Regions from separate parts of the Homo sapiens genome. Here region 1 is linked to region 2. Evidence: fine-mapped expression QTL. Tissue or cell type: whole blood. Region 2 holds a variant in brackets; the other region holds the start of a gene. All regions are shown on one strand. Distances are between the middles of the regions. Region 1 holds the start of BAIAP2-DT (BAIAP2 divergent transcript). Region 2 overlaps CHMP6 (charged multivesicular body protein 6).

The links. PIP is the estimated chance that this variant, and not a neighbour inherited with it, causes the effect.
Region 1: it holds the start of BAIAP2-DT, and the variant in region 2 is fine-mapped to the expression of BAIAP2-DT in whole blood (INTERVAL, PIP above 0.99).

What each region holds. Positions count from the first base shown.
Region 1 is chr17:81,024,031-81,038,794 of GRCh38, forward strand. It overlaps BAIAP2-DT (BAIAP2 divergent transcript), which reads right to left and starts at 10,689. Exons shown (of 2, transcript NR_026857.1): 1 at 10,535-10,689; 2 at 5,103-9,368. It overlaps BAIAP2 (BAR/IMD domain containing adaptor protein 2), which reads left to right and starts at 11,121. Exons shown (of 14, transcript NM_001144888.2): 1 at 11,121-11,278. The coding sequence starts at 11,225. RefSeq lists enhancers at 6,486-7,094, 7,095-7,702, 10,938-11,933, 12,984-13,536 and a silencer at 10,757-11,066.
Region 2 is chr17:80,993,567-81,007,532 of GRCh38, forward strand. It overlaps CHMP6 (charged multivesicular body protein 6), which reads left to right. Exons shown (of 8, transcript NM_024591.5): 2 at 1,015-1,124; 3 at 1,453-1,540; 4 at 2,106-2,192; 5 at 3,441-3,506; 6 at 3,695-3,775; 7 at 4,800-4,854; 8 at 5,532-6,567. The coding sequence ends at 5,587. LOC124904077 (translation initiation factor IF-2-like) reads left to right here and starts at 8,550. Exons shown (of 1, transcript XM_047437254.1): 1 at 8,550-13,966. The coding sequence starts at 10,693. The coding sequence ends at 11,163. The variant C/T (reference allele first, on the strand shown) is at 3,133.

The DNA.
Region 1 (14,764 bases), 31 kb after region 2:
CTGCACCCACCCTGGCTGCAGCAGAGTGGTGGGGGCCCAAGGAGCCCTCCAACCTCGTCAGGCCAGGGGGCTGGGATGCCAGGGACCACTTCTCCTGCACAGCAAAGCTTATTATAAAATCCAAATGCGGCTGGGCGTGGTGGCTCACGCCTGTAATCCCAGCACTTTGGGAGGCCGAGTTGGGCAGATCGCCTGGGGTCAGGAGTTCAAGACCAGCCTGGCCAACATGGTGAAACGCCGCCTCTACTAAAAATACAAAAATTAGCTGTGTGTGGTGGCGGGCACCTGTAATCCCAGCTACTTGGGAGGCCGAGGCAGGGGAATCGCTTGAACCTGGGAGGCAAAGGTTGCAGTGAGCCAAGATCGTGCCACTGCATTCTAGCGTGGGCGACAGAGCAAGACTGTCTCTCAAAATAAATAAATAAATAAAAATATATAAAACCCAAATGCAGCCAACACCGTGGCTCATGCCTGTAATCCCAGCATGATGGGAGGCCAAGGAAGGCAGATCACTTAAGTCCAGGAGTTTGAGACCAGCCTGGGCAACATAGCGAGACCCCATCTCTACAAAAACACAAAACCTAGCCAGGCGTGGTGGCGCGCATCTGTAGTCCCAACTACTCAGGAGACTGAGGTGGGAAGATCCCTTGAACCCAAGAGTTCAAGGCTACAGTGATCCAAGATCTAACCACTGTCCTCTAGCCTGAGCGACAGAGAGAGAGCCTGTCTCAAAACAAACAACTCCGGCCGGGTGCAGTGGCTCATGCCTGTAATCCCAGCACTCTGGGAGGCCGAGGCGGGCGGATCACGAGGTCAGGAGATCAAGACCATCCTGGCTCACATGGTGAAACCCCGTCTCTACTAAAAATACAAAAAAATTAGCCAGGCATGGTGGCAGGCGCCTGTAGTCCCAGCTACTCAGGAGGCTGAGGCAGGAGAATCGCTTGAACCCGGGAGACAGAGTTTGCAGTGAGCCAAGATCGTGCCACTGCACTCCAGCCTGGGCGACAGAGCAAGACCCCGTCTCAAAACAAAACAAAACAAAAAACACAACAAAAAAACTCCAAATGCACCTGAGTCCCAAGTCCAGTCTCCCAGGCTTGACGCAACAAGGGCAGGGCCCCTTCCAGCCAAGCTAACCCAGCCTCTCCTCCAGCACCTCCAGCCTTTTGGAGACCCTGCCCTGCCCAAAACCACTTGGAAATCACCAACTCAACTTTCCTTGGAACGCACCAGGGCACTCCAATGACGCCGTGTCCTAGCTGGAGTGCCTCGGCTTTTGCAATCCTGTGCAGAATCAAGGTTTTCCCTTGAGCCAAAGAATGAAGAATTACGGCTGAATCCAACACCACTGGCTCCAGGGCCTCTGAAAGCCGAGTCCTGAGGCCGCACAAAGGACTCTGTTGGCTCCTGCAGCCGCAGAGAAAATCTCAAAATCTGAGTGAGAATTAGCGGCAGATTCCAGGGATCAGCAGCCAGCTCTTCACACCAGCCTCGTCTCTGGGCATTGGAGCCACGCCGGCAAAGGTCACGTGCAGCCAGTTGGACGAGGGGTAAAATGCCACCCGAATCTGTTTAGAGTAATTGTTTTCCCCCAGTGGATGGAATATTCTTTTCATCTGGGCAGCTAGGAAACAGCTAAAGTTTTCCATGAACCTCTACAAAGATTTCTGTGTCTTCCAACTTTGTGAGAAGAAAAAGAACTTGCTGGGGGAAATGATATTCTCGAGCTTAACACTCAAATCATGTTTTCTCGAAATCATGTTACTTTCTGGCCAAGTATGCCGGCGAAGCCACTGAGACACGCTCCGCACATCTTTAGAACATAAAGGCCCTGGCAGTAGCTTGCGGCGCTCTTTGGAAAACTGCTTGGCTCTCACTGGAAACACAGCCACGCCTCCTCTGGGCCCCGGTAGCTCTGGCGTTAAGTCGGCTGGAGACTGGCTTGGCCACGGCCGCCATCTCTAGCCAGCCCTGGGGCAACTGCCCCCGGCTGCGTCCCACCCTGCCCGCCTCCTAGCCCCTAGCCAGAGGCAGCTGTGTGGCTCCGTGGCTGGGCTGGGGCGCTGCGGCTCTGCGCACGATAAGCCAGGGAGCTCCTTCCTTAGCACTACTGGCTCCAGGAGCACCTATTTAGGTAAACTCCATTCCTGCAGGTGTCCTCCCCGCTACACATCCAGCCTGGCCCCTCGGCCAGTTTTGCCTTCACCCTGTGCAGTTCATCAAGACATCCCCCTTTCATCAAAGCTCTTCTAGCACATTCTGAGGCGAGCCATAGAGGGACATGAGGGTAGTTACGTCTCATCAAAGAGAAAGGGACCTCATATTTCTGGAGCACCTACCATGCACACGGGCTGACTGTGGGCTCCCATGGCCGGTGGGACAAAGGGCCCCAGCTGCTGTGTGGTCTGATGCTGTGCAAATGAACATCTGTGCGAGTGGCCACGCTTCCCCATCGGAGCAGCCCTGTCGGGTCAGCGCGGCCAGAAAGCTGCGTTGCACTTCCCCTGTTAGGGTCTAAGGTGGAAGACCCCTTCCAGATGTCCTTGGTTTCTAGATGGACAAGAAGAAATAGCGTGTGGCTCTCAGGTTAGGAGAAGGAAGCAGAGTGCCAGGAAGAGCCGGGAAGGAGGAGGCACCAGGGCACCTGAGGCTGTCACTGTTCCACCTCCGGGGGTACACGTCTGGACCACTCATGACAGGCCCCACTGCATCACGACCCCAGACAGGAGACGGCAGGGCAGCCTCAGACTCCCCTGCCTAAGTTCAACTCCGAGCACCGGGGCAGGCGTGCTTCCTGCATGTCACTGGGGAGGCCATGCTCTCTCTCGTGTATCTGGACTCACGACGTCCACCCGGCTCGTCTGTATTCCGTCTGGGTGGACGTGACACTGGGCTGCTCCACTGGGAAAACACTGACCAGTCATCGGAATGTTTACGGAGACAGTGTCAGGCAGCGGGCCAGGGAAACTCTGTCCTCGAAGTCCCCCACCCTCTAGGCACCTAAGTGGGGTTTTATAGGATCTGCTGCAAGAAGATAAAGTGAGATTTTAGGGCTGAAGACAACATTTCAAAATCTGGCTTTAAATAAACATGGAATAAAAGAGAGAGAGAGAGAGCGCGAGCAAGAGTGAGAGCGCGGAGCCTCCAGCAGCTGAAATTAGAAGCAGCCAGCCCCGGGCAGGGAAGCCATCTGCGCGGCGCCCAGCAGCATGGAGACGTCTGGGTCCTCCCTGACGGCATGCGAAGCGGCACCCGCAGGTACAGCTCTGCTGTCTCCTGTCTGCAGGGACCTGCGGGAACACACTGAGGTCTTGTTTTCCAGGTGTCCTCCAATTTCAGATTCTGAAGAACAGATTCCCTCCGCTCCCATCCAGAAATACCTTTCAGATCACTTTCAAGGCAGTTTAAGTCATTTAAGAAGCAGAGTGATAAGAAAACAAAGACAACGTTTCAGGCGGTAAATGAAGACTAATTATACTGAGCGTTAAGCAAAGTTCGTCTTTCTTCGTCTTTGCTCAGGGAGGTTGAGCCGAGTACGGCCCCCAGTGCCAGGAGGGGCCAGTGCTCAGTGTCCTCACACAGGTCCGTCTTCCTGCTCACCCAGTCACTGGCCACTCTCACCCCATGCTGGGTTCAGAAGATGGCGAGTGGGCCTGGGACTGGGGCGGGCTCCCACTCCTGCCCGGGGTGGTGCTGCGTTGTGGGCACCCGTGTCCCTCCTCCCCCTCCACCCTGCCCAGCTCCAGACGTGTGGCTGAAGCGGCCAGCTCGGCCAGTTCGTCCCGGCGCCACATGTGTCCTTCCTCCGGCCCCAGACCCCAGCCTCACCTGGGCCAGTGCAGGAGAGCCCAGCTACGCTGGGTGCGCTTCAGGCTGTCACCTGCCCGAGTTATTTAAATCCACATTGTCAGCTAATGTATTCTAATAAGCAAGTGGGTGACCGGGCTGGCAGGCTCCGGATGACGCTGACATATAGCAAGGGGGGGAGGAGCACGGAGCGAAACTCTGAGACTCACTTGCGCCCCGGTGCTCACCCCCGCACTGCCTCCCACAGGCACCTGGAGTCACGCCACGCGATGTGAGCTGGATTATATAAGGGGGCTTGTTGCTGGGGAACCTCTCCCCGCCCACCCCCGCCAGGGCAGGCTCTGGAGGGAGGCCACATGTCGTCTGTCCCCACCACCCTCAGAAGGAAGCCCCTCTGGCCTTTCTGGCCTGGTCTGTAGGGAAGCTCTGTCTGTAGGCCGCCTCACTTTGAGGGCTGAGGCTGGACCACGGCAACACAGGGTCAGGAAGGGCCCGAGAGGCCATGCCCACACTCCTCTGCCCATGTGTTGCTCAGAGCAGGCAGGGTCTCCCTGCCTTAGAGACAGTGGCCTCATCCTGTCCTCCAGAACTTCCTCCCCATCACGGGCCACGTACTCTCTGCGAGAGGAGAGAGGGGACATCAGATGCCCGGATGGGCAGCAATGCATCTCCCTGGCTATGGCCAGAAGTCTGGCCAACACTATGGCTGCAGGACAGCCATGAGCCACGCTGGGTTGTGGGCAGCAAACCCAAGGCACCATCTGCCAAGGAGGCCAGGTGAGAACCACGTCTGGGGTGGCAGAAGGGCTGAGCCGTCAGCAGGACCCTCGCGCCTCACAGCCCCAGCTCCACTGCGGGCAGTCCAGCCGCAGCCACAGACGGGGGAGGGGGCGAGGTGGGGGGCGGGCCCACGTGCCTGTCCTCGGGATAAGGGGCCACTCCACAGGGTGCTGGCCCCCTGGGGCTCTCTGTGATCAGCAGCAGCAGACCACAGGGGCAACAGCTCCATCCACTGACCCCAAGGTGGACAGAGTGGGGACCTGGGGGCCAGGACGAGATTCCAGGGTGAGGCACAGGTGACGCCTTCGGACTCCTGCAGGTAAAACTGGAGGCCTGTGCAAGATCACTGCCCATTCCCATGACAACCTTAACTCTAGCACATTTTTCATTCATGCAATTGTTACAAAGATACCGCCACCCCCCCATCCCCCCAGCCCAGTTTTCCCTTTGGTGACATCTTGCATCAGTACATGTGTTTATGATGATCAATGAATCAATGCTGCTACATTATTATTAACTAAAGCCCATACTTTATTCATATTTCCTCAGTTTCCCTCCAATGTCTTCTTTCTCTCCCAGGACCCCACCCAGGATCCCACGTGACATTTAGGGATCAGCTGTCTCCAGGTTCCTCTAGGCTGTGACAGTTTCTCAGACTTTGCTTGGTTGTTTTTTGGTTTTTGGTTTTTTTTATTTTGAGACAGAGTCTCATTCTGTCACCCAGGCCAGAATGCAGTGGCATCATCTCAGCTCACTGCAACCCCCGCCTCCTGGGTTCAAGCAATTCTCCTGCCTCAGCCTCCCGAGTAGCTGGGACTACAGGCGCCTGCCACCACGCCCGGCTAATTTTTGTATTTTTAGAGATGAGATTTCACCATGTTGGCTAGGCTGGTCTCAAACTCCTGACCTTGTGATCTGCCCGCCTCAGCCTTCCAAAGTGCTGGGATTAAGGTGTGAGCCACCGCGCCCAGCCCACTTTCCTTGGTTTTGATGACTTGGGAAGTTTTCAGGAGGGCTGGTCGGTTTTTCTGTAGAGTGTCCCCCTGTTGGGATTTGCCTAATGTTTCTTTTCTTTTCTTTTCGAGACAGGGTCTTGGTTTGTCGCCAAGGCTGGAGTGCAGTGGTGTGATCACAGCTCACTGCAGCCTTGACCTCCTGGGCTCCAGTGATCCTCCCACCTCAGCCTCTAGTGGCTAGGACCACAGGCATGTGCCATCACGCCTGGCTAATTAAAAAAAAAATTTTTTTTGTAGAGATGGGGTCTCACCATGTTGCCCAGACTGCTCTTGAACAATCTTCCCACCTCGGCCTCCCAAAATGCTGCGATTACAGGTGTAAGCCACTGCGCCCGGTCTGCCAGTGTTTTTCTAATACTAAGACAAGGGTTATGGGTCTGGGAGGAAGAGCCCAGTGGTGAAGCGCCCTGTCACATCTGCCCGTGTGACCTCTCGGTGATGGTGCCAGCCTTGACCTCTGGGCTGAGACAGTGGGTCGGGCTCTCCACTGTGGAGACGCCTTGCCTACCTCCCACTCTGTGCTCTCTGGAAGGAAGTCACCATGTGCAGCCCACACAGAAGGGGCACGAGCTGGGGCCCCCTCCCTGTGCCCCTTACTTTTATTTATTTTGAGACGAAGTTTCGCTTGTCGCCCAGGCTGGAGTGCAATGGCACAATCTCGGCTCACTGCAACCTCTACTTCCTGGGTTCAAGCGATCCTCCTACCTCAGCCTCCTGAGTAGCTGGGATTACAGGTGCCCACCACCATGCCTGGCTAATTTTTTGTATTTTCAGCAGAGATGCGGTTTCACCATGTTGGCCAGGCTGGTTTTGAACTCCTGACCCCAGTTGATCTGCCCGCCTCAGCCTCCCAAAGTGTTGTGATTACAGGCGTGAGCCACTGTGCCCGGCCGGGCCCCTTCCTTTTAAATGTCAGCCTCTGGAGTGACCATCTGTGTTGGCTGGGAGCTCTTCGGAATGTCCCATCCAGTTGCTGAGGCTAATGATCACCTCTCAGGTGCGCTGGTCCCATTCTCTGCGCTGTTTATGTCACTTTATGCCTGGACTCCTCCCAACAATGTTCTGTCCTCCACTTAGAGGGTGCTCAGAGAGGCTGTGACACCTGCCCCCAGCAACCAGCCAGTCATCTAGCCCAGTGGCCCCCGGGCCCGCCTATGCCAAATGATGCCCCCTCGGTGCCGCCCACCCCTAAATGCACACCATGCCTGCAGACGTCAGCACTCGCCCTGTCCCACTTGCCCTGGTGGGAAACAGCCTGCAGTGAAAACGTCGCTCTGCCTTTTATGCTGGACAAAGCCGAAGTGTGCTGGAGGTGGCTGAGCCAGGCTTCCCGCGGCAAGGAGCGGGACTCCTGACCCCACAGCCCTGGCTCCCACCCTCGATGTGCTCCTGCCTTTGCCTTCTTGCTGGTAACGCTGCCATTGGTGCTGGTAACGCTGCCATTGGTGAAGAACACGGGAGCCCATCCAGCCCATCCAGGAAGCAAAGAAACGGTGCTCCAGACACCATGCGGATAGCTTCACCCGCCGACCCCGGCCAGGCCCAGCTGCTCCCACAGCACCTGGCATGGAGGGGGAAGTGAGCAAGGGCAGGCGGGGAGAGAAGAGGCTCGCCCTCCTGGCTCTGCCCCAGACACCCGTCCGATAGCACTCCAGTGCCTTCCGGTCTCTCCCGCTCTGGAACTTTCTGGTTACTGATTACAAGTGCTTTAATCCAGGAATGAAAAGGAAGAGGAGTTCTGATTGGGTGGACCCTTCTCTTGGAGAGAAGGCAAAGCTGCCAGGCAGAAGGTGGGAGGGGGAGGAAGAGGAGAGAGGAAGCTCCCTTGACAGGCATAAAACGTCCCTGTGATTGCGGACAAGTGGCTACTCTCAGGCCACATTCAGCCGAGGCTGGGTGAGGCTGGTCGGGAAGAGGGAGACGGAGGTGGAAGCGGGTTCAAGTTTTGACGGGTGGTCACCTCAGAAAGGGCTCCTTCTGTTTAGCAAAACTCCCCAATCCTTCGCCTGGCTTGCCAGGAGAACAGCTTGCTTGAAAAGCAAAGGCTGTCATCCTGTAATTAAATCTGAGACCCCCCCCCATGTGACGTTGAGATGAAGCCACTTACATAACGCGACTAAAAATAAGCTGATGAAGGCTGCACACTTACACTCTCTGCCTCCAGCCCTCCTCTCCCCAGCGGCCCATCGTGCTGGCTGACCCAGGGTCCGCGTCACCGGCTGTGGCGTCGGGTTCCTGTCTGAAGTCACTCTTGCCTCCGGCCCCGCTCGGCGCCCTGTGTGCATGAGGGCCCATCGCTGGTGCCCGGGTTGCAGACCCCTGGCTCAGAGCTGGGGTGCTGAGGATCCCCCAGCCCGCCCAGGCGAGGGTTGACGCTTATGAGAGGAGACCTGCTGGGTACCAGCTCCATCTGCCTCCTTCTCAGTGACTCCTGACGAGCTGCTCATTTACACACACCTGCTCCCACCCCCACCCCACAGTCTGGATTGCGAAACCTACCGCACCCCACCCCCAGTGCAGGAAGAAGGTGACCCTGGTCTGGGGTGGGGACAGAGAGTCTGGGAGGGGGTGGTGGCTGGCAGTCTCGGTGGCTGGCGACGCCTCTTCCGCTCTTCCTTCCTGGGAGGAGGCGGGCAAGGCGAAGCCTCTCCGCTCAGTCGATGGTTTCCTTCAGGACGTCTCATAGAGGTGTGGGTGAGATCCCAGGTCTGGGCCGCAATTTCTAGCCACGCTGCCCAACCTTCAGGCAAGCAGTCAGGTTCCACAGCTACCCCACCACACTCTCAGAGTCGAGGGGAACAAGAAGAGGGAGTGGTCTGTAAATGCGTCGGGACAAGAGTGCCCTCCTAACTCCACCTGGAGCTGGCGTCAGGGCGATCTCTGGATGCCCAGCCCATAAGCCTGGCCTGTCTCTTCCTGGGACCCTTGGTACTCAGCACCCCCAGCCCCCAAGCCCCCTAATACCCTTTAGAAAGGCTTCCCCATCAGTGTGAAAGACCTCACAGGACGCTGGTGAAGGCGAGCACAGAGTGCCTGGGGAACATCCTTGGTGGAGAACTTCCTGGAGGCCACTGGTGCAGGGCAGATGCCAGGCGGGCACCGAGTTTCTTGCCCTTGTTCTGCATTCCTAGGTATGAGGACCTCACCACGTCCTGCTCTGCGCCTGTCATCGGCCGCGGTGTGTCTCCTCAGGTGCCGAGCTGGTCACTTCCATGTACAGCATGGATAACCGTCTTCTCAGGGAAGGCCTCCAGCCCGCATTCAGCCACCTGCCCAGCCGCCGGGCGGAGGGAGCAGGCTCAGGCACCGAGACTGCTGAGCCACTGGCCACCCGGGAAGCAGGCTGCGTTCTGAGTCGGTCACCGAATATGTCCCCCCTTGGACGGGAGTAGCGCAACGATGTGCAGGCCAGCTCAGGAAGTAACGCTGGGAGCTTCTAGAAGGTGGAGCGGGATCCAGGACCGTGGGAGCTTTTCCGGAGAAGCCTACCTCTCCTGTGTTGCAGCTGATGGGAGCAGCAGGGCCTGGAGAAGAACTGTCCCCAGGCTGACTCCCCTCTTGGAGTGAGGAGGCCTCCCGTGTTTGCCTGCCAGCCTCCATCTGTCATCTTGGTTCCAGCCATTCAACTTTCCTCCAGGCGAGCAGAGCTGCTCTACCCCCACCTGCTCCGTGTTGGCCCCAGACCCAACTCAGGCCAGTGGACGTCTGTCCTAGGGCTGCGTGTGAGATCGGTGGGTGCAGGGAACACAGCAGGAAGCTGGCCTAGAAGAAGGGGGTCAGGGTCAGTGGAGATGCTCCTACCTTCAGGTAAATGCCCTCATTTGTTAGGGCCAGTTTGAGCGAGCTTTCTGTCATTTACCACCAAAAGAATCCTAGAAAATAAATACACAGGGATCTACCCCCAAACACTGGAGACAATAAAGAAAAAGGAAGCAGCCAGGGCCAGTAGCTGGAAGGAAATTCAGCCGGAGGAGAGGAGGCGCGGGGCTGTGGTGGGAGGGAGGCAATGCTTCCTGAATCTTACTTCCCTGGTCTTTCCATCGGCCTGAGCCCGTGCCAGTCTGGGGATCTGCCGGCCAGCCAGCACAACTGCGTCTCCCCCAGGGGCCTGACTCGTTGAAGGAATGAATGAATGAATGATTTTGCAGGGATGGGAGGCTGGGAGACTGAGAGGTTTCATTAAACGGAAACGCTCAGATCTGGTGTTTCACAACGTAAAACAAATAATTCCTCTATGTTAGCCTAATTTATGTAAATATTTCTCCACGGGAATTGTACCGGGAGACCTGTGTGCCAACTCGGCCAGCTTCCCCGGCAGAATCTCCCCTTGGGAGGACCCTTAAGCAGGACCCTTCCTAAAAATTGGAGGCAGCTCTGACTCCTCCATTCCTCCTACAAGGTTCCCCCACCCCCTAGGGCTTTCCACCGCATGAGAGTCCTCCGGGCCCCTCGTTTCCTACTGCCCTCGACCCTTCCTTCCCGAGACCTCTCTCTCTCAGTAAACTGCCTCCAACGAGAATCTTCTGACGGCAGGAGGGTCCTCCCCGTCCCTAAGGGTCGCCCTGTCCCCAGGCCTTCCAGCAGGACACTCCCCTGTCCCCTCTCCAGATCCTCCTTCCCAGGGCCCTCCTCCAAGATCCTCTTCCCCAACCCTCCTCTCCCAGGGTCCTCCCCTCTCCAGAATCCCGGCCCCAAGCCCCCAAGCGCTGTCTGCCTGTCTGGGGTCCTCCCCAGAGTTCACCTTCTGCAGGATCCTCCCTCCAAGTCCTCTCCTCACGATGCTCCCCCGAAATCCTCCTTCTCCAAGTCGTCCCCCACTCCAGGGCCGAGCTCTCTCCAGGGTCCTCCTGCAGCACCCCCTCCCCCAGGGTTCTCCTCTCTGCCCCGAGGGGCCGGCCGGGGGGTCGCCGCCCGCCCGGCGGGCTTACCTGCGAAGCGGCGGGGTCGGGGCCTCTCCCACCTGTAAGCCCGGCCCGCGGCGTCCTGCGTCCGAGCCGCTCCCCGCCCCGCAGCGCCAGGCCGCGACCCGGCGGGCCGCCCGCCCCGAAGTGCCACTTCGCGAAGTGCCGCCTCCACGCGCGCTGCCGCCGGCGCCCCCCGCTCTCCTCCCCGCACCTTCTGCTCCTTCTTCCTGCGCCACCCCGCCCCCGCCTCCCCGCCCCCAGCCCGGCTGTTGCCCGGGCCCCCTCAGGCTGCTCCCAGGGCCCCAGCCCGCGCCGCGCCTCCCCTCTCCTCCCCCAGGATCGACGCCGCCGCAGACCAATCGCTGCCTGGAGTCGGCCACTAGGCCCCACCTCCGATCCCGCCCCCCTCCCCCTTCTCCGGAACCCACCAATGGAAAGGGCGGTGCGGGGGCGGGGCCTGGCGGTTGCCTAGCAGCGGCAGCGCCGGGCGGGGGCGGGTGGTCGGGGGCGGTGATGCGGGCGCAACGGGGGCGGGACGCAGGGGCGGGGACTGCCGCGGGGCGGGGCCTGAGGCGGCTATAAAGGTGGCCGCCGCCGGACGCCGGGCTCTGTGGTTCGGGTCCGCTTTCGTCTCCGTCCTGCTGCCGTTACCGCCGCTGCTGCCGCCGCTTGCGTCCCCCGCTCCGGTCTGTGGTGCAGCCGGGACCCAGGACCATGTCTCTGTCTCGCTCAGAGGAGATGCACCGGCTCACGGAAAATGTCTATAAGGTGAGCGCCCCCCGGCGCCGAGCTGAGCCCGCTCCGTGTGCGCCTGGGTCGCGCGCCGCCCGCGCGCCCGAGCCCGACCAGGGCGGCCCCGGGGCCGCGCGCCGGGCCAGGAGGCTGGGACTTTGGGGGTCTTCCCGGCGCGGCCACCCGGGACCCGGGCTGCTGGGGTGGTGAGCCCGGCGCCGGCCGCTCACAGGTGGCCACCCCCGCCCGGGCCCCCCCATCCCATGCGCGCCGCGGCCCGGTCAGTCCCCAGCCCCAGGCCCGGGGAGCACTCCCCGCTCCGACGGCCCTGCTCGGCCCCCGCGCGCTCGCCTTGGCGTCGGCGGGAACGGAGCCGCGCGCCGGGCCCCGGAAGCCCTCGGACCGGTCGGGGTCGTAGCACACCCGGGCAGGGCCGGGGCGGCGGGGGCGGCGGGCCCAGGGGTTGCGGCGGCCAGGACGGCATGGGGGCTGTCTGAAGGCCGCGGTCGGCGCGGTGGCACCGTGGGGCTCCTCCAGGCGCGGTTGCGCGAGCCTCGGGCACTTCATTCTCAACAGGCTTTCCCTTCCCACAACTCCTGCCCGGCGCCCATGCTGGGGCCTAAGGTGGGAGGTCGGAGCGCGGGCAGGCTGGATGGGTGGACGGATAATCTATCATCTTATGTAACCGCGGAGAGAGAAGACTAATTGTGTAGGAGGCTGACGTGCCTGCCTTTGCTTCAGATGTGTTAAGAGTGGCATCCACGTTCTCGTCTGCGAAATGACAGGTTCACATCCAAGGGCCGCAGAGCACCGCTGGAAGCCTCCCCTGCCGCCCCCTCCCCAGTCGTTTTTGTGGCTGGGATACCGACAAACAGGCCCTTGGTTTTCTCTTTCTTCAGCATCCGTTCTCGGTCCAGACCCCCACGCCTGAGCCCGGCAGCTGCCGGGGAGCATTTTCTCAGAGGAGAAACCCCTGCTCTGGGTGTCCCTGGGTCCTGGGCGATCTCTTACAGATGTGCTTTGTTTCAAAACTGTCTGCAGGTTCAGTGACAGGCTGGGCGATGAGTGGAGTGGGTATTTACCCGGCAGTCGCTGGTTCATGTTTCCTAACCGGCTTGCACCCTGCCCGGCAGAGTAACTGTTTCTGATTGTGGTAGGCGGCCAAGGCGTGCCTGGCCAGGGGCCTGGGAAGCCCTCTTAGCTCTCAGGCTTGGGAGAGCCAGATGGAGGCTTCAGGGGTGGCCCCTCTGGTTCCAGCTGGAGTGCAGGGGGCCGATTGCACTTGAATACAGCTTTCAATAAAGCTTGTGAAGTTGGGGCCGCGTCAGTCTGGAAGGTTTCTGAAGGCGGGTGTGCGGTCGACTAGATGAGTCCTAAAGCCACGTCGGAGCCACTGGGAAACAGGATTCAGGGTGACCTGAGGAGTCGGCTTGGGAAAGGCACAGGCCCTGGGGTTGTTAGGTTTGGTTTCACAGAGTCTGTGGCATACGGTTCTGGCCTTGTTGCTCTGTGGAAGCACATGTTGTCAAGGGAGGGAGGTTTATTAAATTATTAGTCATTAGCTCCATTACGACTTGTTTGTGATTGCAGAGGGTGGAAGAGAAGTACCAGCGGAACCTTTTTCCTATTTTTTCTCCTTCTGCGCTGAAACCAGAAAGCAGGAACTTTCGTGGTGAGAGTTGGCAGGGGGTGAGTACATGGAGTGGTTTTGCTCTGGGGGACCGACCCCGTGATCGTCCTTAATAAAACTCTCCTAACCGGGCAGTAGGCCTTCACCTAGGTGAAGCTGTAATTTATCTGCAGGTCTAAGTGAAATCTGCTGGCAGGAAAACTCTTAGGACTGAGTGTTTGGGGACTTTGAGCCCCTGTGGACGCAGACCAGCTGGTCTGGAGCACGTGAAACACACAGGTTCTGCGTTTTGTCTTCCACGGGTGGGTTAATTGGTGATTTTCCCAAGTGAAGATGTGGCGGTTGATGATTTGATTTAGCACGGCAGGACGCGGTGGGCCGCAGGTGTCTGAAGGGTCGATCCACTCTGGAAAGGCTTTGCCCTGGTGACAGGCTTGCGCTGCTGCTGCTGCACACAGGCGGGGTTGGTTTTGTAGGTAGGTGGCTCCTGCTGCCACTCCGGGAGCCTGACTGCTGAGTCTTTGAGACCTTTTTGTGCTTTGTCACTGGGGAGCTCAAGGTGCCTTGGTAGTGCCGGTACTGGTTGGGCAGCTTTTGGCAATGTCAGCCAGGCAGAAACTCAGCCCACATGGAGACATAGTCAGGAGACCGCTGAGGCCACCGGTGTGCACTCCTGGGCCGGTCCAGCCGGTCCAGGCAGTGCTGAGCTCTGTCCTCTCCTGGGACGGTGCTGCCTCTGGCATCCCTTCCCGGGGCCGCTCCTGTGCCTGGGTTGGCGGCTTGCAGAGCCCTGGCAGTGCCTCTTGGAACGGCTGTGCTGTGGCCTGCTTAGTGTCACCCGCGATGCGGCTCAGCTGTTTGGTTTGGTTTGGACATTGCATCGCCTTAACTGCAGTTCTGAGTGGTGTTTGCCTTGGCAAAGGAGGACGCTTGTCCTTGGCCTTGGTGATTAAAAATGCGAGAATAAAAAGTGCAGTTTTGATTTTCTTCCCCGTAAGAATCCGTAACGCAGACTTTGACCTCTTTTCTGGTGGCTCCATTCCCTTGGGAGCTGTGTCCTCGGGGAATTTCATGGAAGATGAAGGGGAGGGGAGTGGAACGGCTTCCCGGTGTTTGCCGAGAACATAATCTCAGACCTTCTGGGGGCACTGCGTGGGCTGGGCCCTGCAGGTGTTGGGAGGGCAAGGCGCGGAAGACCCCTTCCTCCACAGGAGCCCGGGCCCAGCGCTTGCTCAGGTTGCCCTGGGTAGTGGCCCAGATGGAGGGATGGAGTGCTGGAATCTGCCTCCCCCGGTGGCCTTTGGAATTAAGGCTACTGAAGCTGCAGCCCTCTTGGGGAAGCCCCGTGCATCCCTGTGTGCTGAGGGGCTGGCTCCCTGGCTGGCTGTGTCTCCTGGAATGCCAGGAGAATGTCAGGTGGGTGTTTTCCTCAAGGTCTCGTGTCCGCAGAGAAGCCCTGGCTCCCAGGTGACCCATGACCTGGAGTGTGGCGGCTCCACCACCTTCTCTGGGCATAGTGCCATTGGCCCACAGCCTGTCCTAGAATATGTGAGGTTGAGAGAGCATCTGGGGAGGAGGAGGAGTCCCTGTTGCAGACGTGGCCATGGCCTTCCTTGTGCCGAGGCTCTTGGCCCTGGCTGGTCACTCTAGCAGCTGGTGGGGAAGCCAGCCTGGCGGGGCCGCAGCCGTGCTTCGAGGAGACGGGTGCCACAGGGTTCCTGGAGCCAGGAGCCAGTTGGGTTTGCCGCCTCTGGTGTGATTGGTAAGGGCTGGCGCCAGGTGGTGGGCGTCATGTGCTGGGTGGCAGGGAGCACACTGCCGGCTTTTCTGCTCCGTGCCCGGCTGCCCGGGCCTGGCTGTTCCTCTCTGCCACATCCAGCTTCTTCCTGGGG
Region 2 (13,966 bases):
GAGCTAATTCTCCTCAGCCTCCTGCCTTAAGGCCATAATCCCTGTGCCTGCACGGGCTCAGCATTGTCTGAAGTGATGACGTTTGGAAAACTTAAGGACCTGATAGAGCAGGACTGGCTGAAGTTCCTCAGTGGCCGAGTGCCCTCTCTGGGACGGCACACAGATGAGAGGCGGTCAGCGGGGCCGAGTGGGTGTCCCTGCAGCCGGATGGTTGGCAAAGGGGCAGGGAAGCCACAGGCATCTCATGCGGCTGAAGCGCAAGGAGAGAAGCCGGGGGGATGTCTGAGCCCTGTCCTGGCCGTGTGGCTGGTGGCACTTGGGTACTCGCCACCTGCATGTTCTTGAGTCGGAACTTTTTTTTTTTGAGATGGAGTCTCACTCTGTCACCCAGGCTGGAACACAGTGGCATACTCTCGGCTCACTGCAAGCTCTGCCTCCCGGGTTCACGCTGTTCTCCTGCCTCAGCCTCCCAGGTAGCTGGGACTACAGGCACCGCCACCACACCCGGCTAATATTTTTATGTATTTTTAGTAGAGACGGGGTTTCACCATGTTAGCCAGGATGGTCTCGATCTCCTGACCTCGTGCTCCGCCCGCCTCGGCCTCCCAAAGTGCTGGGATTACAGGCGTGAGCCACTGCGCCCAGCCGAGTCCAAACCTTTGAGGTCCTGGCAGCTGCTCCCTGACCTGAGCCTAGAGTGCTTGTACCGCTGGCAGGCAGCCTCGAGGGTGGACCCACAGCAATGCCACGGTGGTCTTCCCCATCCCTGTGATGGGCTGTGGAGTCCGGGTGACCCTCTGGTGGGGCCGCCTCTTGTGTGGCAGGATGTGGAGCTGAGTCCCTGGCTTCCACCCCCAGACGTGTCCAGACAGCACCACCTGTCCCCTGGAAGGCAACCCTGCCCCATGAAGGACACTCACGGAGGGCCGCCCGGCCTCCATGCCTGGCGCTCAGTAGCGTGGCCAGGGCTCCCAGTGTGGGCTCGGTGACGCCAGGCCCTCTCTCTCTTGGCAGCAACTGAAGCAGCAGCGGGACAAGCTGAGGCAGTACCAGAAGAGGATCGCCCAGCAGCTGGAGCGCGAGCGCGCCCTGGCCCGGCAGCTGCTGCGGGACGGCAGGAAGGAGTGAGTGGGGCCCGGGCAGCGTGGGCACCCTGTCGGCTGGGGTGGGGGGCCCGGGCAGCGTGGGCACCCTGTCGGCTGGGGTGGGGGGCCCGGGCAGCGTGGGCACCCTGTCGGCTGGGGTGGGGGGCCCGGGCAGCGTGGGCACCCTGTCGGCTGGGGTGGGGGGCCCGGGCAGCGTGGGCACCCTGTCGGCTGGGGTGGGGGGCCCGGGCAGCGTGGGCACCCTGTCGGCTGGGGTGGGGGGCCCGGGCAGCGTGGGCACCCTGTCGGCTGGGGTGGGGGGCCCAGGCAGGGCCACAGCGGGTCACTCTCGGGCTTCCCTCTGCAGACGGGCCAAGCTGCTGCTCAAGAAGAAGCGATACCAGGAGCAGCTCCTGGACAGGACGGAGAACCAGATCAGCAGCCTGGAGGCCATGGTAGGCGGCCGGGTGCTTCGCCCTGGAGTGCAGGTGCAGCTGGAGGCAGCTCCGCCCGGCTGCGTGGACATCAGAAATTTCTCCCGAGAGCTGAAAGCTCCTCTCAGATGCCTCGGGCTGAAGCTGACCTGAAGAGGGGCGGGCCTGGAATCCCGGGGAGTCTGCCAGGAAGCTAATGGTCTTAAGAGGCTGGGGGGCAGGTTGGCTCTCGCAGGACTGAGGTGGGGAAGGTTGGGCCACCCCTGGGTGGTGTGGGTAGGTCAGGGGTCTGCATGGGGACTGAGTGTCCCTGGTGTTAGGGACCCGAGCGGCGTGGTTCTGCTCTTTGGTAACCAGAGCTACTAACAAGCAACCAGCGGTCCCCTGAGTGTGTCCCTGGCACCTGCTCAGTCCTGCGCATCCCCACCTGGCAGTGGGAGAGGACAGGGAGGAGCAGGTGTCAGGAGTCACCCTCACGCCCAGCAGCACCCGCCCAGCAAGGGTGTCATCCTGAACCCTGCCCCAGGGCCGGGAGGAGGGCACCCCGGATCCTCAGCACCTGCGTCTGCTCTGGTTTCCTTTTCAGGTTCAGAGTATTGAGTTCACCCAGATCGAAATGAAAGTGATGGAGGGGCTGCAGTTTGGAAATGAGTGTCTGAACAAGATGCACCAGGTGAGTCTCTGCAGGGCCAGGGGCATGGAGGTGTGGGGAGCCCATTGGGCTGGAGCTGGGGATAGGGCGGGGGGCTTGTCCCACGGTGTTCGTGTCAGACACAGGGCAAGAGGCTGGCAGGGGAGATGTGTTGGGTGCTGCCAGGCAGGCAGGGATGCAGTGACCGGGTGCAGCACAGGCTGGGAACTGTGGGAACTGGGTCCCCAGGCGCCGAAGTGACATAGAAGGGAAGTCTGAGGGTGGGGAGGGGGCTGGCAAACTAATCACAGAAGGCTTCCTGGAGGTGGCGGGTGTGGTGGCTCACACCTGTAATCACTTTTGGAGGCCAAGGCAGGCAGATCACCTGAGGTCAGGAGTTCGAGACCAGCCTGGCCAACATGGTGAAACCCTGTCTCTACTAATAATACAAAAATGAGCCAGGCGTGGTGGCAGGCACCTGTAAACCCAGCTACTCAAGAGGCTGAGGCAGGAGAATCTCTTGAACCGGGAGGCAGAGGTTGCAGTGAGATGAGATTGCGCCACTGCACTCCAGCCTGGATGATAAGAGCAAAACTCCGTCTCAGGAAAAAAAAAAAAGAAGGCTTCCTGGAGGAGGTGAATACCGGCCTCATCTCAGGCCGGGCATGGATGTGAAGCCCAGCGTGGCCATACCACGTTCCCCCACCAACCCCATCACACTCCTGACATGGGGGCCAGTAGGTGGGGCTAGTTGGAGAGCCAGGGACTCACCTGGCGGGAGGTCTGGCTGTGCTACTTTTCCAAGTGTTTGGTGAGTACTGGTGGTGTGTGCCGGTCAAGCACAAGTGGCCCTTTGACCTTTTGCCACTCAAAAGAAATCAAGTCACCTGCCCAGAATGTTCTACCTGTTGCTTGTTTTTACTGGCGGCTGTGAGAGCTGACTCAGGGTGAGAGGGGGCATCGGGCGCCAGGGCAGTGCAGT[C/T]GTGGCCTCTGAAAAGACTCATCAAACGGCCCCTGTGGCCTCAGGACAGGCCCATGCCTGGGACACACATGTCCTGGCCTCATTTAAACAGGGACAGGAGCTGGGTGTGGTGGCATGCACCTGTAGTCCCAGCTACTTGGACGGATCGCTTGAGCCCAGCCTGGGCAACACAGCCAGACCTTGTCTTTAAAAATAAATAAAAATAAACAGAGGGGTGAGGCCATGGCCCTGAGAGCCCAGGAGGCCTCTGTCGGGGGTCTACCATTGGCCTCGCGACAGGGGTCAACACCCATCACCCTCGTCCACAGGTGATGTCCATTGAAGAGGTGGAGAGGATCCTGGACGAGACGCAGGAGGCCGTGGAGTACCAGCGGGTAGGTGGCACCCTGACCGGCCTGCCCCCAACTGTGAGAACCCACAAGGCCACCCTCGAGGGCCAAACTGTCCCACATCCTAGAGCGGCCGCCTTCTCTCAAGGGGACGAGACCCAGCCACAGGCCATCTCCTTCCTCCCTGAGGGGCCACCTCCTCGCTGCTCTCACCACCGCCTGTCCTTTTGCAGCAAATAGACGAGCTCCTGGCAGGAAGCTTCACTCAGGAGGATGAAGACGCCATCCTGGAGGAGCTGAGCGCAATCACTCAGGTAACGGCCCCCCCGGGACTGAGCACAGTCACTCAGGCAGCGGGACCCCCAGAGCTCAGACCCCCAGGAGGCCCTGCCCATGGTGATCTCGTATGTGGTGTCCTTTAAGTAAATAGTCTGCGGTTTGTGACTGGTTTTCCTACCTGAGGTGACTCTGTTTTCAGGGTTGCTCACCCAACGGTCTGGTGCAGGCAGGCTGGCCCCGTGCCCTGGACAGAGCGGGGGTGCTGGGCCTTCCTGGCGCCTCGGCCCCTTTCTGTCCCCGGCTGTCACGGATGTGGTGCTGGCTTTCCCCAGCCGTGGCTGCTGACTCACGTCCCACATAGGCCCTCGCTGCGGGGGCCGCGTCCTGGCCCCAGGCTCACATCCAGGCTCTGAGTCTGTATTCACTCCCCGACACAGGGGTTGTCCTCTCTGTGGGCCCCTGCCTCAGTCCGCCAAATTCTCATGGTGCCCCCAGAGCCGGCCTCTGCCCCAGCCCTGCTGCCAGCTGCCCCGGCGCCCTGGTGCTGTGCGGCCCATGGTGCCTGCACCCACTTGCTTGTCCAGTTACTTTCTCCTGAGGGTCCGAGTCCTCCGGGGCCTCCAGGGAAGGCCAGCTGAGAGGCAGAAGCACCCGTGCTGGCTTAGGCAGCCAAGCTCGCTGGGACAGCGTTGTACCGCAGCCCACCCCGCAGTGGTGGACACCAGCGTGACCTGGGTGTCTGTGTCACCCACCCCTCGGTCCCTGAGAGCCAGGGTCTCTGGGGCACACCCAGGACGTCGCCTCCTTACAGCCCCTCAGCGCCCCAGGGTCTGTTGGGAGGAGCCTCCATGGTAGCGGCTGCGTCACCACCTAGGGGATTCTGGTGGCACCAGAAGCCGGGGCGGTTGCAGACTTGGGTCTTCTGAGCAGCACGTTCCTGTCCGCTTTAACTCCGGCTGAGAGCGGCTGACGGACAGGATCCGTGTCCTCTCGGGGAGGCCCAGGCAGCCCGGGGCAGACCTGTCACCTGCTCATAGCCTTACCCTTTGCTTCTTGCAGGAACAAATAGAGCTGCCAGAGGTTCCCTCCGAGCCCCTTCCTGAGAAGATCCCAGGTATTTCCATGTTTGATTCTTTTGAATGGTTGGAATTCGCAGGAGAAAAGTGGATTCTAGAAGGGAACAAGACAGAATGCTCCCAGGCCTTCCTGGGCCGTGGGCAAGCCCTGCTGCCTGGCTGTTTGGCTTGGGGGCGTGCGTGCCTGGCCTTGGGGTTGGGCTTGGGTTTCCCAGGGGTTCGGTAACTGGGCAACCTCATAAGAGAGCCATACCCCATTCAAAGAGACACATTCAGAAATCAGAACTGGGGAAAGGCTTCTTTAGCAGCACCAGCTCATTCCCAGGGTGTAGCCCAGGATTAGCCCTCAGCCAGGGATGGCTCTCCCCGTGGCACCATTCAGCACAGGCTCTCCAACCTGCCCACTGGGAAGCTGACTTTAGAACCGTCCATCCACGTTTGTTCTGTTCCTTTACCCATCTTTGGGGCTCTTCTCCTCTCTGAGTCCCGCTGGGAGGGGCTGTGCTTTCCTGGCCCACTGTCCCGTGTCCCTGGCCCTGTCTGTCAGCCCCATTGGCTTCCTGTTTGTCACTTGCCTCCCCCAGAGCTGGGCGTGCCCTTCCCTAGTGCGAAGTCCCCGGAACTGGCCCTTGCCACCCCTGTGGCCTCGTCCCTCTCTGGAGGTCTCTGCCTGTGGGTCTTTGGCGTGTCATAAACATCTCTGTTTCCTCCACAGAAAACGTCCCTGTCAAGGCCAGGCCCAGGCAGGCGGAGCTGGTGGCAGCTTCGTAACGTGGCCTCGTCTTGTGGGACTCACGGGGATGCCCCAGGGACTGTGGCCCACAGAGAGTTTGGGTCACGGCCAGCCCCTGACCGGGTTCCCTGGAGCCCAGTGCGCACGGTGCTGAGCAGAGCTGCAGCCACGCAGGCGCATTGCAGGAGGACTCCAGAGCGTCTCCTGGAGACCTTGAGCCTGAACGCACTCAGGCGCCACTGGCCTGCTCTCAGTCCGGATTAACTCTCGACCGAGCCCAGCTTCTGCCGGTTGTGGGCTCCCCCGGTGGCCGAGGCCCAGGCCCAACGCCTCTGGTGCTGTTCCCCTGCAGTCCCAGCCCCGCGTGGCTCGCGCTCGTCTGTGAGGAAGACACCTCCAGACCTTGGGGTCCCCGCGCTTCCTCTTGCTCCTCGCTGCTCCCATTAGCTGGTGCAGGCTTCCGTTAAGGGGTCCCTCCCTTGGCCTGGCTTCCCGGCGCACCTCAGCTTCCCTGCTGGTGGGGGGATCCCCAGGAGACCAGCATGTGCTGAACCTCTCTGTGCCTCTGCCTCCGCACCCTAGACACCCACCTCCAGTTTGAAGGTGGCGGGCCAGGGGCTTTCTTGCTGAATTGACGACTCCGAGAGCCCTGACTCCCGCCTTGCCACTCACGGCTCTGTCCACTAGGGCTCAGCCCTGCTGAGAAAGGACCTCCGATGCTTGGGAGACGCTGCTCCGGCAGGTGCAGCCCCGGAAGTTTGTCCATGGGGGTCCCCGCGGCTGGGGCTCATGGAACTGCGAGACCCGGGACCCTCCTGCCCTGCGGGTCCCCGAGCCACCAGCAGCCAGGACTGGAGGCTGTGGGGCATGGCGTGACTTCTCGTGCACAGGGCTGGTTTGGTTATGAGACGATCTCGCTGGGACCGCCCCTGCCCGTGGAAAGCCACAAGGACAAAGGGAGCGGCCACCTCGACCCCCAGACAGGCCGGCCCGTATTAAAGTTGGCCCTGCACGCCCACTGCCTCGTGGACTTGGGCGCAGTGGGCACCTAGGCGTGGCTCCCTCTGTGGGAGCGTGGGTGGGTTGTGTGCGGCCCCTCCCCCACGGTGACCCTGACCAAAGCCCAGCCCCTTGACCAGCATGGGGACGCTCACTGGAGGGCTCCTGCCCAGTCCGGCCAGGCCTGGGCTCTGCACACGTGAGATGGAAGCTCTGGGCCCTGACGGCCACCTCTGGGCAGCTGCCCTCCATGGGGGCCAGGGTGCTGCTCTGAGCAGGCTGGCAGGCTGTCTCCCTCGCGTGGCTGTGTGTAATCCTGGGCCCAGAGGGTGGTGGGTTTGGGGTCCTGGTGCCCAGGCGGGAATCTTGATGTGCAGGGAACACGATGGGCAGGTGACCCCCAAGGGGTGGCTCCACACCCCGCACCGGTGGGCATGGGGGTGCTGGCCCTGCACTGCCGGGTCTCAGGACTGAAGAAGCTGAAGACCTGGGTTTGGGGGAAAGTCTTGTTTCTCCCCGTGGCGGCAGCTCTCCTGCGGTGCACGTGTCAGCTGGGGTTGAGGGGGTCTTCCAACCACCCTTGCAGGGATTCTGCAGAAAACTAGTTGGCTGGCGCTCCCCCTGTCTGTCCCCAGGACTGCCAGGCAGCCTGGAGGGCACCTCGTGATGAGGCTCCAGCCCCATGACCTGCTCCCTGCAGCAGTGCGTCCCAGGCCTGTGGAGCACCGGCTCTGGGTCCCAAACTGCACGCAGGGTGCCAGGAGCCTGCGTTGGGAAGCTGCAGGTGTGGCTGGAGGGGCCCTGGCTACTGTCAGTCCCAGGCCTCAGTCACAGCCTTTACACACCCTGCCTGTGGGGCAGGTCCCTCCTTTCCCTCTGCCTCCATTAGAACCCAGGGGCTTTTGCCAAGAGAGGCCGGGTGTTCTGGCGGCATTTTGTGGCAGGACTTTGCTCTCAGCCCCAACCGGAGCAGCTGTCCACAGTGCCCTCCCCCTTGTGCCAAGTTCCTGGTCAGGGCCCAGGAGGCCATCCAGGGAACGCCAATAACCATCCATCCCTGCTACAGCACAGCCAGGAGTGGGGTGGGGTCCACGTTCCCTCTGACTATCCAAGAAGTTAGAGCCTGACTACTACTCAGCCGTGTTCTGTGTACCAGTGTTCCTCCCTGGACCTCGCAAGAGTCTGCCCGGACAACCCAGAGTGACCTTGAGCTGATTCCCAACTCTGGCATTGGTGTGTCCTGGCTGGCCGGCTCCTGGTTATGTCGGGCTGGTGGCAGCCCCTCCTGCCAGCAAGGTACAGAGCCCAGTGCTGGCCGGAGCCTGACCAACCTGATCTCCTAATCTAGGTTGGGGACACAGGAGCATGACAATCACAAGTCAAAATTAGGTGTGGAACCTCAGGGCGGAGCTGGTGTCCTGCCAGAGATGCCTGGGGGCCGGCGGGAGGACTTGGAGGAGGAGAGGCTGCAGAGGGCAGGGACACAGAGTAGGGGGCCACACAAAGGGTGGCTCAGAGTGGAGGAGGGGCATAAAGGAAGAGCCATACATAATCAGCAGCTTTGAAGGGTGTTGGAGCCTGCCAGCCACAGAGGACTTCCCAGGGAGGGAATGGGGCATAGTGTGGAAGTGGTGCCCTCATTTTCAGAGGCTGCAGACACTTCGCTGGAAGGCACACTTGCCACGGGGCAGGCAGTGTGGCAGTCAGAAATGTGTGGGATGGAATGGGCGCGGTGGCTCACGCCTGTAATCCCAGCACTTTGGGAGGCCGAGGCGGGCGGATCATGATGTCAAGAGATTGAGACCATCCTGGCCAACTTGACGAAACCCCGTCTCTACTAAAAATACAAAAATTAGCTGGGCATGGTGGAACGCACCTGTAGTCCCAGCTACTCGGGAGGCTGAGGCAGGAGAATCGCTTGAACCTGGGAGGCGGAGGTTACAGTGAGCAGAGATCATGCCACTGCACTCCAGCCTGGCAACAGAGCGAGACTCTTTCAAAAAAGAAATGCGTGGGACAGAATGGCGGGTCCATCCTGGACGGGATGGGGCCCCTGACCCCTGTGTGCCTGCGCTCTGCCAGCTCCTGCGCAGAGCAGGTACTCGGGGGAGGGAGGATGGTTTGCTCCAAACTCAGGTCCCAACTGGTGTCTGACTTGGCCGCAGAATCCTTTGGGTCCTGGTTTCTTCATACATGCAATATTGGGGGTTTGGCCTTGGGGGTCTCTTCCAGCTGAGTCCACTTCTGTCCCCAGCCTGTAAACTGTCTGCACCTATTGACTCTTGATGGTCTCTGAGGGACTCAACTTTAGGAACTCTGTCCGTTTTGTGCTGCTGTCACAGAGTGCTTGAGACTGGGTAATTTATAATGAACAATCAACTGGCTCACGGTACTGGACAGGTGCCAGCATCTGGCGAGGGCCGTCCAGCTGCGTCATCACATGGTGGAAGGCAGGAGGGGAGCCACCCCACCCTTTTATAACCAATCCCAGCCGTTAGGGCGCAGCCTTCATGGCCTAACCACCCTCTGAAGGTCCCACTCGATACTGTTAAAAGGCAATGAAATTTCAACAGGTTTTGGAGGGGACAAACATTCAAACCATGGCAGAAAGTGTGGAAGGAGCAATAACCACACTGAACAGAATGACCATGGTAATTAAACCCCAAGTGAAACCATGACCTGTTTTACATCATCCTGGAGAGAACAGTGCAGCTCCAGTACTTGCTGAGCTGCAGAGACAGGGTCCATCCAACTCGACAGCATCCAGCAGCCACTCCAGGCCGCCAGCAGACAGATGTTGGGAGCAGCACTGATAGTTTGGGTTTTCGTTTGTTTTTTTAAGACAGGGTCTCACTTGCCCAGGCTGGAGTGCAGTGGTGTGATTATGGCTCACTGCAGCCTGGAACTCGGGCTCAAGCGATCCTCCCACCTCAGCCTCCTGAGTAGCTGGGACTACAGGTGTGTGCCACCAAATCCAGCTAATTTTTGTTACTTTTTGTAGAGATGGGGTCTCACTATGTTGCCCAGGCTAATAGATTTTTTTAAATGATCATACAGGACGGCTGGGTGCAGTGGTTCACGCCTGTAATCCCAGCACTTTGGGAATCCCAGTACTTTGGGAGGCCGAGGCGGGCAAATCACCTGAGGTCAGGAGTTTGAGACCAGCCTGACCAACATGGAGAAACCCCGTCTCTACTAAAAGTACAAAATTAGCCGGGCGTGGTGGCGCATGTCTGTAATCCCAGCTACTCGGGAAGCTGAGGCAGGAGAATCGCTTGAACCCAGGAAGCGGAGGTTGCAGTGAGCCGAGATCGCGCCACTGCACTCCAACCTGGGCAACAATACAAGACTCCATCTGAAAAAAAAAAGATCACACAGGAAAACAGAAGTTCGATTTTACGTCGTACACTGCTGTAATTTCAGCACATGTGGACTCGTGTAACCAACACCATAACCTTCCATCACCCCTGAAACTCCCTCCCGCCAGCCCTTTAGGGTTGCCCCTCCCCCCGAACCCCACCAGCCCCTGGTGACCACTGATCTGTCCTCCAACCCATAGTGTTTTTCCGGGAATGTCACAAAAACAGAAGCCGACCATGGGTCACCTTTCTGGCGCCTTTCTCCCCGCACAAAGTCTTTGTCCTTGTGAAGTTGTCACGTGCCAAACGCTTGTCCCTTTTTCCTGCTGGGTAATACTCCCGGTGCCGCCCTTGCTGTTCGTCGATGCACATCTGGCTGCTTTTCGCTGGCTGCGAGCGGAGCTGCTAGGGACATGGCCACGGGGCTGTGAGAGCGGAGTTTCCTCTCTCCGGTGACCCTGAGCTGCGCCTTTCTCAGCCGCCTCCCGAGGCCCCAGGCGCTCTGCGGGGGCTCTGGCGGGGTTGGTGGGGGTGGGCGTTCTCGTTGTTTCAGCGGCGCTGCCCCAGGCCCTGCGGGAGGGACCGTGGGACCCGAGACATCCCCGCCTGGCCTCCGCTCCCCACCCGGGAGTGGGGCTCGCACCCCCCCAACCTCGGGTAAAGACGCTTCTGGAAGGAAGGGCGCCCCGCGGACCCCGCCCAACCCTGCCCAGCCCAGCCCAGCCCAGCCCAGCCCTTCCCGGGGCGGCGGCGCGGGAAGCAGGCGGCGGCGCACGGGCGTCGTCATGGCAACCCCACCGGCTCCGGGGGCCGGGACCGCTGCCCCCTCCGCCCCTCGACCCCCGCCCCCCCGCCCTTCCTGGCTGCGGCTGGACCCGGCTGCGCGGGGCGCGAGGCTGCCTTTCCCGGGATCACCAGGGACCACCCGGCGCGCTCCCCGGGAATCCGCACCCCTGGCCCCAGCGCTCCGGAGCGACCCGGGTCAGCCCCTGGCTGCCTGCAATGGGCCCCCGGGCGAACCCCGGGCGGACCCAGGAGTGAGCACCCGGTGCGCGGCAACGATGATCCCGCAAGGGAAGCTCACGGGAGGCAGGAGCTGTGGCAGCCGCCCCAGGATGGGGCGCGGGGAGCGCGCTGAGCTGTCCTTTCCCGCAGCGGCCCCGCGGTTGAAGCGTGGGCTTGGGTTTTGGTTTTTCTTCTGTGGCAACAGTTCTGTTGAGATATTACTCGCCTGCCATACAACTCACCCATTTTAAAAGTACACCTCAGGGGTCCTGCGTGTATTGACAAACCCGCCGCCGTCACCACAGCCAATTTCAGAACATTTTCATCTCTTCAAAAGAAACCCTGTACCCTTCAGCTGTCACCCTCCTGGTCCCCATCCGGTCCTCGTCCCGCCCTCAGCAGCCACGCACTGCCTGTAAAGTCCCCTGTCCTGCCCTGTAGGTGGAATCTATACCTTGGGGTCTGTTCTGACGTTCACCTAACAGCCTTTCCAGGCTCAGCTGTGCTATTGTATGGACCAGGGGGTTGTTTTGTTTTTGTTGTTTGTTGATTGTGTGTGTGTGTGTGTGTGTGTGTGTGTGTGTGTGTGTGAGCCTGGCGTGGTTGCGGGCGCCTATAATCCCAGCTGCTCAGGAGGCTGAGGCAGGAGGATCACTCGAGCTCAGGAGTTTGAGGCTGCAGAGTTGATCATGCCACTGGACTCCATCCTGGGCGACAGAGCAAGACTCTGTCTTTTAAAAAAAAAAACGGGGCTGGGCGCGGTGGCTCACGCCCGTAATCCCAACACTTTGGGAGGCCGAGGCAGGCGAATCACGAGGTCAGGATTTCGAGGCCAGCCTGGCCAACATGGTGAAACCCCGTCTCTACTAAAAATACAAAAATTAGCTGGGCATGGTGGCGGGCGCCTGTAATCCCAGCTACTAGGGAGGCTGAGCCAAGAGAATGGCTTGAATCCGGGAGGCGGAGGCAGAGGTTGCAGTGAGCCGAGATCGTGCCACTGCACTCCAGACTGCAGCCCTGGTGACAGTGCGAGACTCTGTCTCCAAAAAAAAAAAAAAAACAAACAAAAAACAATAAATAACAAGGTCGGCTGAGGTGGCTCACGTCTGTAATCCTAGCACTTTGGGAGGCCGAGGCGGGTGGATTACCTGAGATCAGGAGTTTGAGACCAGCCTGACCAGCATGGAGAAACCCCGTTTCTACTAAAAATACAAAATTAGCCAGGCGTGGTGGCGCATGCCTGTAGTCCCAGCTACTCGGGAGGCTGAGGCAGGAGAATCGCTTGAACCTGGGAGGCAGAGGTTGCAGTGAGCCGAGATCATGCCATTGCACTTGCAGCCTGGGTGACAGAGCAAGACTCTGTCTCAAAAAAAAAAAAAAAAAAAGACTCAAAAAAAAACAAAAATCAGCCAGGCGTGGTGGTGTACACCTGTAGTCCCAGCTACTCTGGAGGCTGAGGCAGGAGAATCGCTTGAACCCATGAGGCAGAGGTTGCAGTGAGCCGAGATTGCGCCACTGCACTCCAGCCTGGCAACAGAGCAAGACTCCGTCTCATATAAAGAAATAAAACAAAAATAAACAAATTTTAAAAACAAACACATTCCTATACAGGTTTCTGTGTGGACAGCGTCTGCTCTTGGGTCTGCACCTGGGAGTGGAATTGCTGGGTTGTGTGGTAACTGGATGTTCACCCATAGGATGAACGACCACACTCTTTTGCACAGTGGCCGATGGTTCTGGTCTCTCTACAGCCTCACCAACTCTTATATTCTTTTTGATTACAGCCACTCTAGCAGGCATGAGGTGGTACGTCATTGTGGCTTTGACCTGCATTTCTCTGGTGTCTAATGGTGTTGAGCATTTTTTCGTGGGTGTTACTGACCATTTGTATATCTTAGAGAAATGTCTATTCAGATAATTTGCCTATTTTTAATTGGGTTCGTTGTCTTTTTATTGAGTTGTAATACTTTATTCGGGATACTAGACCCTTATTAGACACATGATTTGCAAATATTTTCACCCATTCTTTGGGATGTCTTGTTAACCTTTTTGATGGTGTCCCTTGAAGCACAAAAGTTTTTAATTTTGATGAAATCTAATTTATTTTTGTTGTTGTTCCTTGTGCTTTTGGTGTCATAGCTAAGGAACCCCTGCTTAATCCAAGATCATGAAGATTTGTGTCTATGATTTCTTAACAGTTTTATAGTTTATTTATATTTATATAAATATGTTTTTGAGACAGGGTCTCACTCTGTTGGCGAGGCTGGTCTTGAACTCCTGACCTCAGGTGATCTGCCTGGCTCAGCCTCCCAAAGTGCTGGGATTGCAGCCGTGAGCCACCGCGCCCGGCTTGACTTCTTCCTTTTATATGTGGGTATTTTTCTGTCCCAGCGTCATTTGTTAAAAAGACAGTCCTTTCTCCGTGTAATTGTTTTGGCACCGTGTGGAAACCCGCTGCCTGTAGCCAGGAGCTTCTTTCCAGCCCTCAGTTCTGTCCCATTGCTCTGTGTGTCTATTCTTACGTCCTCATGGCAGCCTTGTAGTAAGCTTTGAAATTGGGAAGTGTGAGTTCTCCAACTTTGTTCTTCTTTTTCAAGATTGTTTTGGCTATTCTGGGACCCTCAAATTTCCATGTGAATTTTTAGGATAAGCTTTTCAGTTTCTGCGGAGGAGCCAAGTGAGATGTTGATAGGAGTTGCGTAGAATCTGTGGATGTGTTTGGAGAGTGCCGCCGTCTCCGCTACATTAAGTCCAGATCCGTGGATTGAGGGTGCCTTTCCATTTATTTTGGTCTTCTTTACTTTCTTTCAACCAAGTTTTGTAGTTTTCAGAGTATAAATTTTATACTTGTTTTGTTCAGCCTATTACTGTTTTATTTTTGGTGCTATTGTAAATGAAATCTTCTTAATTTCAATTTCAGATTATTCACTTAAATATACAGAAATACAGCTGATTTTGTATATTGAGCTTGTCTCCTGCAATGTTGCTGAACTTGTTTATTAGGGTTTTTTTAAGTGAAATCCTTAGGACTTTTTATATACAAGATGAGGTCAC